4 linked regions of the Homo sapiens genome follow. The protein of the gene in region 3 purifies or fractionates together with the protein of the main gene of each other region. This does not show direct contact. Each region holds a gene or a part of one and is shown on either strand. Other genes may lie near its edges.

What was found.
Region 1: the proteins of PHLDB2 (region 3) and SRSF12 purify together in Homo sapiens (affinity purification with mass spectrometry, with the first as the bait; one large-scale study listed by BioGRID). This does not show direct contact.
Region 2: the proteins of PHLDB2 (region 3) and SIPA1L1 purify together in Homo sapiens (affinity purification with mass spectrometry, with the first as the bait; one large-scale study listed by BioGRID). This does not show direct contact.
Region 4: the proteins of PHLDB2 (region 3) and RTKN purify together in Homo sapiens (affinity purification with mass spectrometry, with the first as the bait; one large-scale study listed by BioGRID). This does not show direct contact.

Annotation. Positions count from the first base shown.
Region 1 is NC_000006.12:89,095,459-89,098,265, forward strand, and holds the end of SRSF12 (serine/arginine-rich splicing factor 12), read right to left. Parts: 3' UTR 501-2,807; downstream 1-500. UniProt on the Homo sapiens protein: Splicing factor that seems to antagonize SR proteins in pre-mRNA splicing regulation.
Region 2 is NC_000014.9:71,582,476-71,585,975, reverse strand, and holds part of SIPA1L1 (signal-induced proliferation-associated 1-like protein 1), read right to left. Parts: intron 1-3,500.
Region 3 is NC_000003.12:111,883,265-111,886,764, forward strand, and holds part of PHLDB2 (pleckstrin homology-like domain family B member 2), read left to right. Parts: intron 1-799; coding exon of another isoform or gene 800-813; coding exon 814-2,148; intron 2,149-3,500. UniProt on the Homo sapiens protein: Seems to be involved in the assembly of the postsynaptic apparatus. May play a role in acetyl-choline receptor (AChR) aggregation in the postsynaptic membrane.
Region 4 is NC_000002.12:74,435,438-74,438,937, forward strand, and holds part of RTKN (rhotekin), read right to left. Parts: intron 1-3,500. UniProt on the Homo sapiens protein: Mediates Rho signaling to activate NF-kappa-B and may confer increased resistance to apoptosis to cells in gastric tumorigenesis. May play a novel role in the organization of septin structures.

The DNA.
Region 1 (2,807 bases), on a different chromosome or scaffold from region 3:
GCAGGTGTGAGCCACCAGTCAGCCAGAAATTTAATGTAGTTTAGAAGGATTACAAAAGTATTTCTACATACCTTTAAATTTTGACTAATTTTGCCTCTGGCAATGGGATCAAAATAAATGCAGCAATTCTTATTTGTAATGCAACAGCATGTCTTAGAACAGTTAGATCTCAAGTAAACTTTACAAATAAAGTACTGGAATTAATTTACATTTAAAAATAAATTAGCCCAGTGGCCTAAAATTAAATCCGAGGCTCCAAATAAAAATTTCAGCAAATTCCCCTATTATCTGTTAACACCGAAAAATATCAGCTGCTATAAATTATTTGTGCATTATTCCTGGGGAGAAAGCAAGCAAGCCGCTGTCATGGCAGTCTCTATTTTCTTTGACCCTAACTTATCCTCTATGATCCTGAATAAATGGTAGGTAGTACCCCTGCACTAAACTTGGGAAGTACTTAAATAAATATAGTCTCTTTAAAAGAACTGATCACAGATGTCTAAAATTAAAACGTTTGATTTATTAATAAACAAAGTATCTCTCTTAAATGGGCCAAGAAACAATTCTATGACAAAAGTGAACCCTGGAATATAGATATTCCCAGAAGACAATTTTCCAGGATACCCAGCCAAACAATTTTCACCTAGTCACAAAAGTCATTTTCATCGAAGCCTACAGTCATTCCTTTTTCTAATTCTATTCTCTCATTTCTTTCTAAACATGATTTTAATAAAGCATATACCTGTCAAAGACTTCTCTTTGCAAAAGACATAGGAACAGCAGTCAGGAAGAGGACTCTGAAGCCCAGTCACTCCACAGATCCAAAGTTTATGGCTGTGTGCCCTTGTAACTTAGCCTCTCTGCATCTGTTTCCTTGTCTGTAGTGGTACTAGGTTGGCGCAAAAGTAATTGCGGGATATTTACCTCATAAGAGTGTTGATGGTTAAATACAAGAGTGAATAACTTAAGACATATAGAACAGTGCCAAGCATGTACTAAATGCTCAAAAGAGTTTGAGCTATTATCATTCCAGCTTTTTCATCAAACCAAATGGTATCCTCCTAAGCAGCCCAGGGATTACAATGACAAACCTAGTCAGAGGTAAATCAAAGGATTAAATATGTTCAGGAATACAGAGATTTGTGAATACAGAGTAAAGATACTATAATCAATCCCTAGTTATTATTTTTCACAATGGTACCTAGTTATTATTATTTTTATAGATAAAGGGGTCTTGCTATGTTGCCCAGGCTGGTCTCAAACTCCTGGGCTCAAGCAATCCTCCTGCCTTGGCCTCCCAAAGTGCTAGGATTACTGGTGTGAGCCACTGTGCCCAGCCCCTAGTTTTTAAAATGATTTCACTTATGTGTATGAACCCAAACATTCTGAAAATACTAAAAATTTCTATCAATATCTGTCTTACTCATTCTTCAGATTATCCTTTAGATTTTCAGTAGTGCCACATAATTTTATAACTAAATTTTATTATAGCGGAATAATTCAAAGAGTTGTAGTTTTGAAATAAATTTTGCTATGATTAGAGAAAATCTATTCAGAAAGTACAATATACATTAATTTATGGCACTTGTCCAAATATTACCAGCATACAAATTATTGTTTAAGGTTGTTTCTTACATATGGGATCTAATATGCAAAGAAAACTGGAATTTGTATTCAAAACAAATAGAAGCAACACTGGCTCCTATATACTAAAAATATAAGACAGATTTTTTTCTTAAACACTCTGGATACAAATACTAACTGTATGGATTGAGAACTTTGAAGTTTTCATAATGTAAGTCACAAAGTATACAAGTAGAGCTCTATAAATATATCCCCTATAATAATCATATGCAAAACCATTCTATCACAAACACTACCAAAACCCTTTGAAAAACATAAACTACAACACATTTTCAAAGAAATTATTAGTTATAACAACTACAAAAGCAATAAATATCAATAAAGTTATTTGGCTGTCAGAAATGAAGGGCAGTATAATGTAAAATTCAAATACTGCAAAGTTGTTTTTTGAAGATGTAGTCTCGAGTTTCTTCTTCTTCTTTTTTTTAAATTTTAGAGACAGGATTTCACCATGTTGCCCAGGCTGGTCTCAATCTCCTGGCCTCAAGCAATCTGCCCGCCTCGACCTCCCAAAGTGCTGGGATTACAGGAGTGAACCACCACGCTTGGCCAAGTTTCTTAATACAAGGTACTAAACACTCTTTCAAAAATAATAAGACTTGTTCCATATAAAGTTGAGCAAGAACTCTAAAAAGAAAAAATTAAGCAACAGATGAAAAGTAGGTATGTGGAAATAATGGTATCAAATATGATTTTATACAAAATGTACCATTCTTCAAATGTGTAAGTCTTAATATGAATATTTTTGGATTGTGAGTGTTGCTCAGCCTAATTTTTAAAGAATTAGTCTCAAACCATTCAAAATCCAGTATTTCTCAAAAGTTCTGATATTACTAATGTGGTCATGGTGCAGGATGCAATTTCATGTCAACTTACCTATACTGTTCTACCCAATAAAAATATAACCTTTGAGCTTAGGAGAGAATGTATCTTTTGAATGTTTGATCTCTATATATATTCTACTTTTTGGAACATCAGAATTTTGTAATATGAACTAATATCCACCAGGAATTGGCCCAAGTTTAAACAGAAGACACAAAAGAGACATAGGTGTCAAACAGCTTAAGTCTGCTCTATGCAATTATACAGTCATAGTTACTTTTTACATGAAAGTGCTTTAAAGTCAAAAATATTTGTGTAAAAGGTATTATTAATAGTACTAA
Region 2 (3,500 bases), on a different chromosome or scaffold from region 3:
ATAACCCTTCAAGTGACAAAACATGCTAACTGTTGCTTCCGAGGATATCAAAGGACAGCATATATGGCCATAGCAAAGGTTCAAGAAGTGATTCTCATAAAATGGAAGGAAAATTGAACAACTGAACCAAAATGCAAACACCTGTTCAACATCTCCCCAAAAGCTGATTATTTCAATGAATACTCTACATAGCATAAATAATACTTCTAAAGTAGATTTTATAAAAATTAGATGCTTTCAACATTTCTCACAACCTCACAGAAATCCAAATAAATCATCTTTCATTCCCCAAACATTCATTCTCTAAAAGGACAACACACCAATCCCACCATGATAAAAACTCTTGCCACATTTCATGTGCCTTAGAAAATACTTTACTGCACAGCTGTCTTTCCCAGGATATGTGAAGTTATTTCCATTAGAGGAGGAAACTAAAAGCTGGCAGTAAAATACAAGAAATAAAACTGACTTGGAAATGCTCAGTCTCCACCATCAGTATTTCTCTTCCAAACCATCTCATATACTTCCAATATTTTTAATGAGTTTATAAAATCTTATTTTTAAATATAAAAATTTCTTACCAATTCAAAAGAAATTTCAAGACTCCCATTACATTATATAACAACGACTCAATGTTTTCTTTTCATTTCAAAATATAAATAAGCACATGGGAGAGAGAGAAGCCACGTTTTAATGGCTTGTAAAAACTGATGAGGTTCGAGATGGGCAATTATGTTAAATAACAGATTTTTTTTCAGTCATAAGGACCTTCCTTTTCTATGTTTTTTTTTTCTCCCTCTCATTTTCCATCTCCCTCCCTCCCTCCCTCCCTTTTCTCATTCTTATTTATAGCATCAAACCCCTTTGGGGTACAATATAAACTTTGGGCACTGACTAGCATATATGGAAATATACATGCTTTGCACTTATTAAACTACCAGTCAAAAATAATGCTGTCCATCGATGTGTATCATATGATGACAGATCAATAATACCTTCACATCTATTCCTTAGGGTTGACTGAAACAGCAAACCTATGTTGACAATGATCAGCAACTCTCTTAAATATCAGCAAACCTGCCTAAGTACCAATATGGTAAAAAGCAATAGAATTAAACAGAAGAGCAATACGAATTCACAGCATGTCACCTCCATCTGTTGAAAGAGCAGGCTATATAAAAATTTTCCTTATTACATGTTTAATTTTACAGCTCTAGATACTATCTAAGTCTATGGTAGATCCAGGTAGCTAGAATACTAATTCCATCTAGAGGGCCCACAGTTTAGTTCAATGAGTTCAATTCAACTAGTTGAAAGTCTTTTCATCACTCAAGATCTCTCACAACCTAACCCACCATTCTTCCAGAAGAAATGCTTCCTCCTCTCATCCAAATCACCCCCTGTGTTTCTGTAGTGTCTTCAGAGCATGGACCATACATCCACCAGTCCCTCCTTCAAGGAAAGCTCCAGGTGTAGCAGGGAGACACAGACAAGTAAGAAGATGACGGGGGATGCATGGGTCATGCCTCCTTCCTATACACTTTCCATTTTGATTGTAAGCTCTTTAATAACAGAGCTTACAATCTCCTGCTGGGACTAATTGTACCACAGTAGGTCAGCCATTTAGAATATCAAGTCCCTGAGAATGCTGAAAGCAGAACCTCTTATGGGATCTCTTGATTGCCAAAAATCCCTTGTCATTCTGGCTCTGTGAAGCATCTGTACTCCTGAACCCATCCTCCATCCTGAACCTCTCTTTTCTGGACCTCTGTGATAACCATGTGCTTCTTCATTTTCTCTTGCCTCTTTTTGCCCACTACTCAGTCTTTAGTTGGGGTCCATTGAAAAGGTGGTGTCTATGGTTTATCTCTCTTGACATTTTTCATATTTCTGGAAAGGGGTATAAAAGGTATTTCTATCAGGATGCATGTGAGCACTGAGTGTATTAGGATGAGACAGAAGCATGGGTCCACTGGAGTAATAATATCACTGTGGAAAGCAGAGTGTTGATTGGGCTGGCTCACATTTGTCTGTGCAGCTGAACAAAGGCAGAATAATTAAGTTACTGGCTGGAAATCTGCATGGCAACCAGTACTCTGTCTGTTGATACTGTAGGTGCCTGCAGCTTTAAATATCATCTCTATGCTGTTACCTCCAAATCTCTGGTCATGATCTTCTCCACTAAACTTCAGATAAAATAGAGGTAGGTGCTCATTTGACATCTTCTTTATTTACCTATTTTACAATGAAATAACCAACAAGCAGAATAATGAAAAAAATTTTTTTTCAAGAAATGATTAAGTGGTAAGGAAGGGAGCACATTCTATTCCTAATTCAAGGAATAGAATGAAAGAAACAACATCGTGCCAAGGGCATAAAGAGCAGTTTAAAGGTTACAAGAAGAAGATGTGGGAAGGGGGTGGGGTTGGGGGAACACTACAGTTCCTGTTGTGAAAGAATTACAGTGCAATATGGTAGGGTCACCAGAAAGATGTAGCGTTCCTCATAAAATACTTCCACATTCCAAAATGAGATCTTCTCAGATTCTTTAACTGGTACAGCCTAAAATACAACGCCAGCTCTCAATGTTTCAGGGCAGTAGAAGGAACTGTGCTGATGAATAACTATTCAAATGCCCCAATAATTCAGAGATATACACTTCAGAAGTATTTATGAAAATTTCCAGGCCCAGCACAGTGCCTTGTGCCTGTAATCCCAGCACTTTAGAAGGCCAAGGCAGGCAGATGGCTTGAGCCCAAGAATTTGAGACCAGCCTAGGTAACATGGTAATACCCAGGCTCTTAAACAAACAACAAAAAAATAGAAATAGTTTTTGAACTTGTAAACACAGACTTAGAATGCCTGTAAATATTCTTACTTCAGAATGTAATAAAACACTATTTAAAAACAGAAATATAACTTCACAGTACTTGAATATTAGATGAGCTAAGATAATCAAATAAGGCAAACTATTTTCTTTACATCCCTTCTTGGCTTTCCTGAATTCCACTCACATTACATAAAAGTTGCATCTCAGACAGAAGGGATGGCTCACTCTTTCAAGTTAGCCTGAAACACATCTTAGTGCAATGTCATGGATAATTTAAGATTTATGAATCAGCGTAAAACTTTTTAGAATGGAATTTCTACCTCCTTTCATTTCTGTATTCTCCCTTCAACAAAAAGCAGGAAGAGTTGAGAAAAACAGTTGATAAATCTAGTTCCTGCTCTCCTAATGTTCACTCTCTGAAAGAGACAACACTGATGGAAACAAAGTCGAGTCAAAAAAACTTTTGGTAAAATTAACAAAGTGAATAGAAAAGTTATAGATACAAAACATGTAACATGATAAAGCTGTATTTGAATTTAGAGATAAGAAAGCAACTTAAAATGTGCCTGTTTGGACACAGGAAGGATCAAAAAGGAAAATCACATTTCCCTCCCACTCACCCTCGTAGCTAAAAAAGTTCAGTGAAGAAAGTTACGCTTCTAAGGTTTTG
Region 3 (3,500 bases):
TTTTAATGGTGGAAGATAGAATCCTGATCTGTCCCTGGAAGAGTGACTAGGTCCTGATAGTTGTTTCTGCTAGAGGAGAGAATTTGCAAGGATGAGCATAGTGCATTTGGGGTACTAGAAAATTTAAAGGATATAACAGTTTCAGGTTTTTAAATATACCATCCCGACCATGTGTCAATAATTGGTGGAATACCCTTTTCTTTGTTATTACCTACCTCTGATGACTAAAGGAGCTTTAAGTCTTTTTGTTGAGAAGGTAACTCCCAGAGTCCTTGTTTAAAGAACCATCTTCTAACCCTCATGTTATTGATCAGTGTCTAACGTAAACTTTTTTTTCTCTGCCCAAATGTGAATTTTGTTTCCTCAGGACTTTATTTCTGAACAGTTAATGATTCTAGCAGAGACAGCTATAGGAAAGTCCATTGCATTATGCCTTTGGGCATTAGCTAGTCACTAGGGAAGCAGGTGTTCCTCGAAGGGCCAGAACATTAAGGACAAATTGTCTTTTTTAATGTACCAGCCTAATCCTGCACCTTTACTTGGTTAGGGATTTGTTTCGCTCAAATGTCATTGCTGTCCTTTTATTTCTCTTTTGTACATAAGTTATCTCAGGTCAATGATCTTTATTCTCCTTTAATTTGCTGTATGGTTTTAACAGGTTTTTTAGTAAAACTGAGTTTGTGTTTGTTAGTTGCATTAGGTCAGACTGCAAGATTGTTTGTTCAGATGTAGGCCTAACAAGGGATTGTTCTTTTAAAATCTTCTTTAAGGCAAAATTTTCTGTTTTATTTCTTTACAGATTCCAGCAAGATTATGGAAGAGCATAGCTACATACAAAAGGAGCTAGATTTACAAAATGGTAGCTTAGAGGAAGACTCTGTGGTGCATTCTGTTGAGAACGATTCCCAAAACATGATGGAGAGCCTCAGCCCAAAGAAATACTCTTCCAGTCTGAGATTTAAAGCCAATGGAGACTATTCTGGCTCCTATTTAACCCTCTCACAACCTGTGCCTGCAAAGAGAAGCCCTTCTCCTTTGGGAACCAGTGTCAGAAGCAGCCCCTCCTTAGCCAAAATCCAGGGAAGCAAGCAGTTCTCTTATGATGGAACTGACAAAAATATTCCTATGAAACCTCCAACTCCTTTACTCAACACTACATCCTCCCTCAGTGGATATCCACTTGGAAGAGCAGACTTTGATCATTATACTGGCCGGGACAGTGAAAGGGCCTTGAGGCTCTCAGAGAAGCCTCCCTATTCCAAATATAGCTCAAGGCATAAATCGCATGACAATGTCTACTCTCTTGGAGGGCTGGAAGGTCGGAAGGCATCTGGCTCGCTCCTGGCCATGTGGAATGGAAGTTCCCTGAGTGATGCTGGCCCGCCTCCTATCAGCAGATCGGGAGCCGCAAGCATGCCTTCAAGCCCAAAGCAAGCCAGGAAAATGAGCATTCAGGACAGCCTGGCGCTTCAACCCAAGTTAACTAGACACAAGGAGCTTGCATCTGAAAACATCAATTTGAGAACTAGGAAGTACTCCAGCAGCAGCCTGAGTCACATGGGAGCCTACAGCCGATCACTTCCCAGGTTGTACAGAGCCACAGAGAACCAGCTGACACCTCTCAGCTTGCCTCCAAGAAACTCTCTGGGCAATTCCAAACGAACAAAACTTGGGGAAAAGGATCTACCTCATAGCGTAATAGACAATGACAATTACCTTAATTTTTCTTCTTTGAGCTCAGGGGCTTTACCCTATAAAACCTCTGCTTCTGAAGGCAATCCTTATGTAAGTTCTACCCTCAGTGTCCCTGCCAGTCCACGAGTGGCTCGGAAGATGCTTCTGGCCTCCACCTCCTCCTGTGCCTCTGATGACTTTGATCAGGCTTCATATGTGGGGACAAACCCGAGTCATTCACTTCTTGCTGGAGAGTCAGACAGAGTTTTTGCGACCAGGAGGAACTTCTCTTGTGGATCTGTGGAATTTGATGAGGCAGATTTGGAAAGCCTCAGACAGGCCTCAGGAACCCCCCAGCCTGCCCTTCGGGAACGGAAAAGCAGTATTAGCTCCATTTCAGGACGTGATGACCTGATGGATTATCACCGGCGGCAGAGGGAGGAAAGACTCAGGGAGCAGGAAATGGAGCGATTGGTAATCTTCATCTCAACAGTGATTGACCTCACTGTTTCATTAACCAGCATCTACAGGGCAGCCTTGGAGATGGACTCCAGGATATGTGGGAATATAGGATATTCATGTTCACTAGCCACAGCTGCTATCTTTCTCTTCTCTCCTGCTATCCTTCTTCTTCCCATATCACTATTAATAGGCTTGTTTGGCTATCTTGAAGGCCTCCAGGAATTAATGTTAATTTAGTTGCTCTGCGGACTTCTCACAAGTATAAATTCTTTAAAAACATAACAGAGGAGTTGGGAATTTTATGAAATTTCTGAGTCTTACAAACTTCTCTTTAAGACTATGAGGAAATGCTGACTTGTATTATTTATATCATTAAATTTGCTTGTGTATGGTTATGAGAAGTAGTCAGTGAAATCATGACTCACCAAGAATTAGGTAGTAAATTTGTCTTTATAGCAAGTTGTCTAGAAAGTTGGAGTTGCCTCAGTGGTGCTCAGCTTTTCTCCACACTGTTCATACACAACCTTACTATCTTTAGCTCTGATTCTTATCACGTACAGTGATTCCAAACTACACATACTCACAAGATCTATTGAGTTGTCTTTTTCCATTTAAAATGAATTTATACTTATTGTTGAAATATTGAAAATAAGACGGGGAAACATCCCTTGAGAGTCTCACCAATGAATGAGAACAAACAACTGCATTTTTCCTTTCTCTTTTAAGCACAGGTTTTTCTCTTAGAATGAATATCTGTGAGAGATTACTTTGATTCATTTTTGATTCATGATTTCCTTAACAAGAGAAGCTGCAGGATAGTAAAGCTGATTTACAGCAACACAGTAGGATTATCAGTGTTTTAGTCGCTAAAATATTCTAGAATATGATTTTTGAATCACAAAACTGGTTGATACCCTATAGGACAATAAAATTGTAACCCAGGCTTGTCCAACCTGTGGCCTGTGGGCCGCACAAGGCCCACAATGGCTTTGAATGCCACCCAATACAAACTCAAAGTTTCTTAAAACATTATGAGATTTTTTTTGCCTTTTTTTTTTTTAAGCTCATCAGCTATCGTTAGTGTATTTTATGTGTGGCCCAAGACAATTCTTCTCCAGTGTGGCCCAAGATTGGACACCCCTGTTGTAACCTTTGGATTATAATGGACAGAAACCATTTGCATCCATCCAGAAGGAAATACGTTTGACATTTTAGAGCAGTAATCATTTGCATCACTCATAGTTTTTGATAAGTTGATGTCTGTTCTTACAGAGTTTTCAAATACCCTAACTGACAATAGTGAATGAAAACAAATGTGCATACCCTTAGAGAATTTAGACAGTCTTTGAGTGGGTCAGTTATAC
Region 4 (3,500 bases), on a different chromosome or scaffold from region 3:
GTGGTAGCAGCATTTACTCAGTCAACACTGGAGCATCCCTGTACTGTCCAAGGTTGTACATTTAAAATCCAGCTGGGAGGTGAGAGATGATGACTTTAATGGCTGCTCCATAAGTGCCATGTCATGGCACAACCATGCTCACAAGAAACAGCCTCTGTTTGCTTCTGGCTGAGGTGATCAAGGAAAGCTTCAGAGAGGAGTTGGAAGACTAACTCTATCACAGTGTACAGATTGGTTCAGGAGACAAGTCGAGCCATCCATTTGAAACAGGGGAACTAATGTGACCACTCCAAACCTGTCTTTTTCCTCACACCAGCTCTCCTCCATACACTGTGCCCTTGCATCTGTCCCTAGTGGCTCCAGCCTTCAAGTCTCTCAGACCCGAACACCCTAAATTCCCTCTTCTAAAAAGCCTTGTCCTGCCTGCCTACAGATGCTTCCTTGGCTATTTTCTGGGCCACTGTGCTAGGCCGGACTTTTATCACCTTCCCCCATCACCATCCACCCGTTTTCCTTCTGTAATAAGCCAACCCTTTCCCAAAGCCCCTCACCAGGAAGCCCTTTCAGACTACATAGGTCCTCCCAGTCTAGTTTTGTCTGCACCAGGGTTCTGCGCTGCCCGACAACCCCCACCCCAGTCTGCACCCAGCTTCAGCCACAAACATCCCAAATGGGTGAGCCTGGCAGGAGGGGGACACGGAGGTGTCCTCAACCCCCATCTTGGCTAGTCTCATCCCAGTCCCAGCACTCACGGATCCTTCCCCAGCCCGCTCCATTGCGAGAGGCGCGCAGAGGCGCGCGAGGTCCAGAGAGCTGCACTGGCCTGGGGAGCCGGCTGGGTCCGAGGGCCGCGGGAAATCGGAGGAGCCAGGGCGCCAGCATAGCTGCACCGCCTCCAGCTGCAGCGCTCAGGACGCCGGTGACATCAGCTCCCAATTGCCGCGAGAGCAACTGAGGGGTACCAGGGCGCTGGAGGTCCCTCCGGGCACCTGGCTGGGCTTGGCTCAAGGCGGTGCCTCCACCGAGACTCCATCGCGGCGGGACCGGACCTCCAGGAGTGCGCCCGCGCCGCCCTGGAAAAGGCTCCTGGCCTTCACGACGTGCTCCAGCTCCGGGAGGCCCCTCCCGCGTAGCGTTTGCCCTCCAAGGTGACCCCTTGCCTGAGAGTATGGAGGGCGAATAGTGTATAAATTGGGAGAGCTGGGGCCCTAGGGAGGTCACTGGGCCCAGCATGGATGAGTGGGACCACGAGTCCAGACACCTCCTCTATTTCCCTACTGATCTCCAGCCCCAAATCCACTCTCCCAAGGCCCAAGGCCGGGAGCGCCCTAGGAAACTGGCTCCCACCCTTTCAGGCAGAGGAACTGGGAATCCTGGCTCAGGATCTGGACCCTTGTGCTTCTAGCGTTTCCCCAACCCAGGGATAGTTCCTTGTTGCCCCCTCCCCACCCAAACACACCCTCTCCCCAAGCGGGCAGCATTTCCCCTGGGAAAGAGCGCAGAGCTGGGTGTCAGCTGGACCCGGGTCAGATCCCAAGGGGCTAGAGGATGAGTCATGGGCCCCACACACATTAGGCCCCCTGTTGATATCCCTTCCACCCCTCCCACTCTCTTAAGTCTCTGACTTCCTGCTCTGCTTCTCACTACCCTTTTTTCCCTTCAGAATCTCCACCAGGGCTAAGTACAAATCCTGGTTTAGGGACTTGACAAGCCCACAGAATTTGACCCCTGGAACCTGAGTTTGTAAAATGGGGAGTATTCCACCTCCTTCGTAGCATTGTTTGAGAATTATATGGGAAAGTCTCATCTCTACCTGGGCCTAGCACATATTTTAAAATAAGCCCCCTTTACTTGCAACTTGAGTCACTTCCTCCAGAAAGTCTTCTTGGATTTACTCTTCCACGACTATCTCTTTTGCCATTCCCTGAAACATCAATGGGTCTCTCTTTTGAGGACCTGCTGAACTTGGTTGAGAAAGAACACAGCACCCTCAGCCACTCTCCTAAAGGAGAGTGACCAAAGTGAAACTAAGCATCTCCTCTGCCCCAGAACTTGAACAGGCCTTCCACAGAGAAAATTTACATTTTTTGGAGGAGGGTAGGATGCAGAATTTAAACATTTACATACCTAGACCAGCTCTGTCCAATAAAACCTTCTGCGGTGATGGAAATGTTCAGTAGCCATCTAGCACTTGAAATATGGCTACAGCAACTAAGGAATTAATGTTTTGTTTTATTTTAATGAACTAAAAGTAAGATTTAAATAGCCATATGTAACTGATGTGGACAGTGCAGAGGACTATGAATGGCAAATAGGTTTTATCTCATGCACTGATGGAGGATAATTAGGTAGAGTCCCAACGAGTTCACTGGACACCTTTCCACAAATTAGAAAAAGCTGACCCTCTCCAGGCAAACAAATTAGATAAACGTGCTCCCTCCTGATGCCGCTGAAACCAGACCAGGACTCTCACCTCTGGCTGGCACCTGTGTGAAGGACACAACCTGCACAGTTTATGCCAAGACGGTCCTGAGAAAGATTCTGAGGCCAGGTCTGGGCTCGTTGATAAAGAGTGCCAAAATTGACCAGTAACATCTACTATGATCCAGGGAGTGGGGGCAGGGCTTGAGGGGGGACAGCACATACAATATCCTGCCATTCCTGATCTAGACTCTTTGCAGTCCTGCCTCTGACCTCTCAGCAGCAGCCCCTGCCTGGTCCAGGCAGTCACTTCCACAACTTCCTCCATCTTCCCCATCTCCGTAAACAGCCACACCACCCAGTTGCTTAGCCACATACCTGGGAATCATCCTGGAGTTCTCTTTCTTTGCCCTCCCATCCAATCCATCAGCAAATCCTGTCAGACCTACCACCACCATTTGAAATCTACTCCCTTTCTCCACCATGAGCATTTTAATTCACACCACCAGGTTCACTCCCACCTGAAGTGGGAGTGAAACAGCCTCCCACCTGGTGGACATTTGCGAACTCTCTTGCCAACCCTCCACCCCCAACCCTACCCTCAACTTCCCACCAGCCTATTCTCCATAGCAGCCATCATTTAAAAACATGGCATGAGTCATTCCCTTGCTTAAAACCCTTCCATGGCCCAACATCACACTTAAGGTGAAATCCAGGTGCCTTATCATGGCCTTCAAGGCCCTGCATGATCTGGCCCCTGCCCATCAGCTCCACCCCAACTACTATATTCCAGCCACACTGGCTCTCTCTTTCCCACAAATATATTACCCTCATCCTCATATCAGGGCCTTTGCCCTTCCTCCAGTCTTCACATATCTCCAAATCCTCCTGGGCTTAGCTCAAAGATCTCCCAACAGAGGCTTCCCCTGACCTCCACATCTAACATTGCCTCCCTCATCTGATTTTCATTACATCCCCATTTTCATCATAATTTCTTTATGTGATATTATTTATGTGTTCGTATGTATATTTCTGTTCTCCCACTACAATGGAACTTTCTTGTCTTATTCACTGAGGTA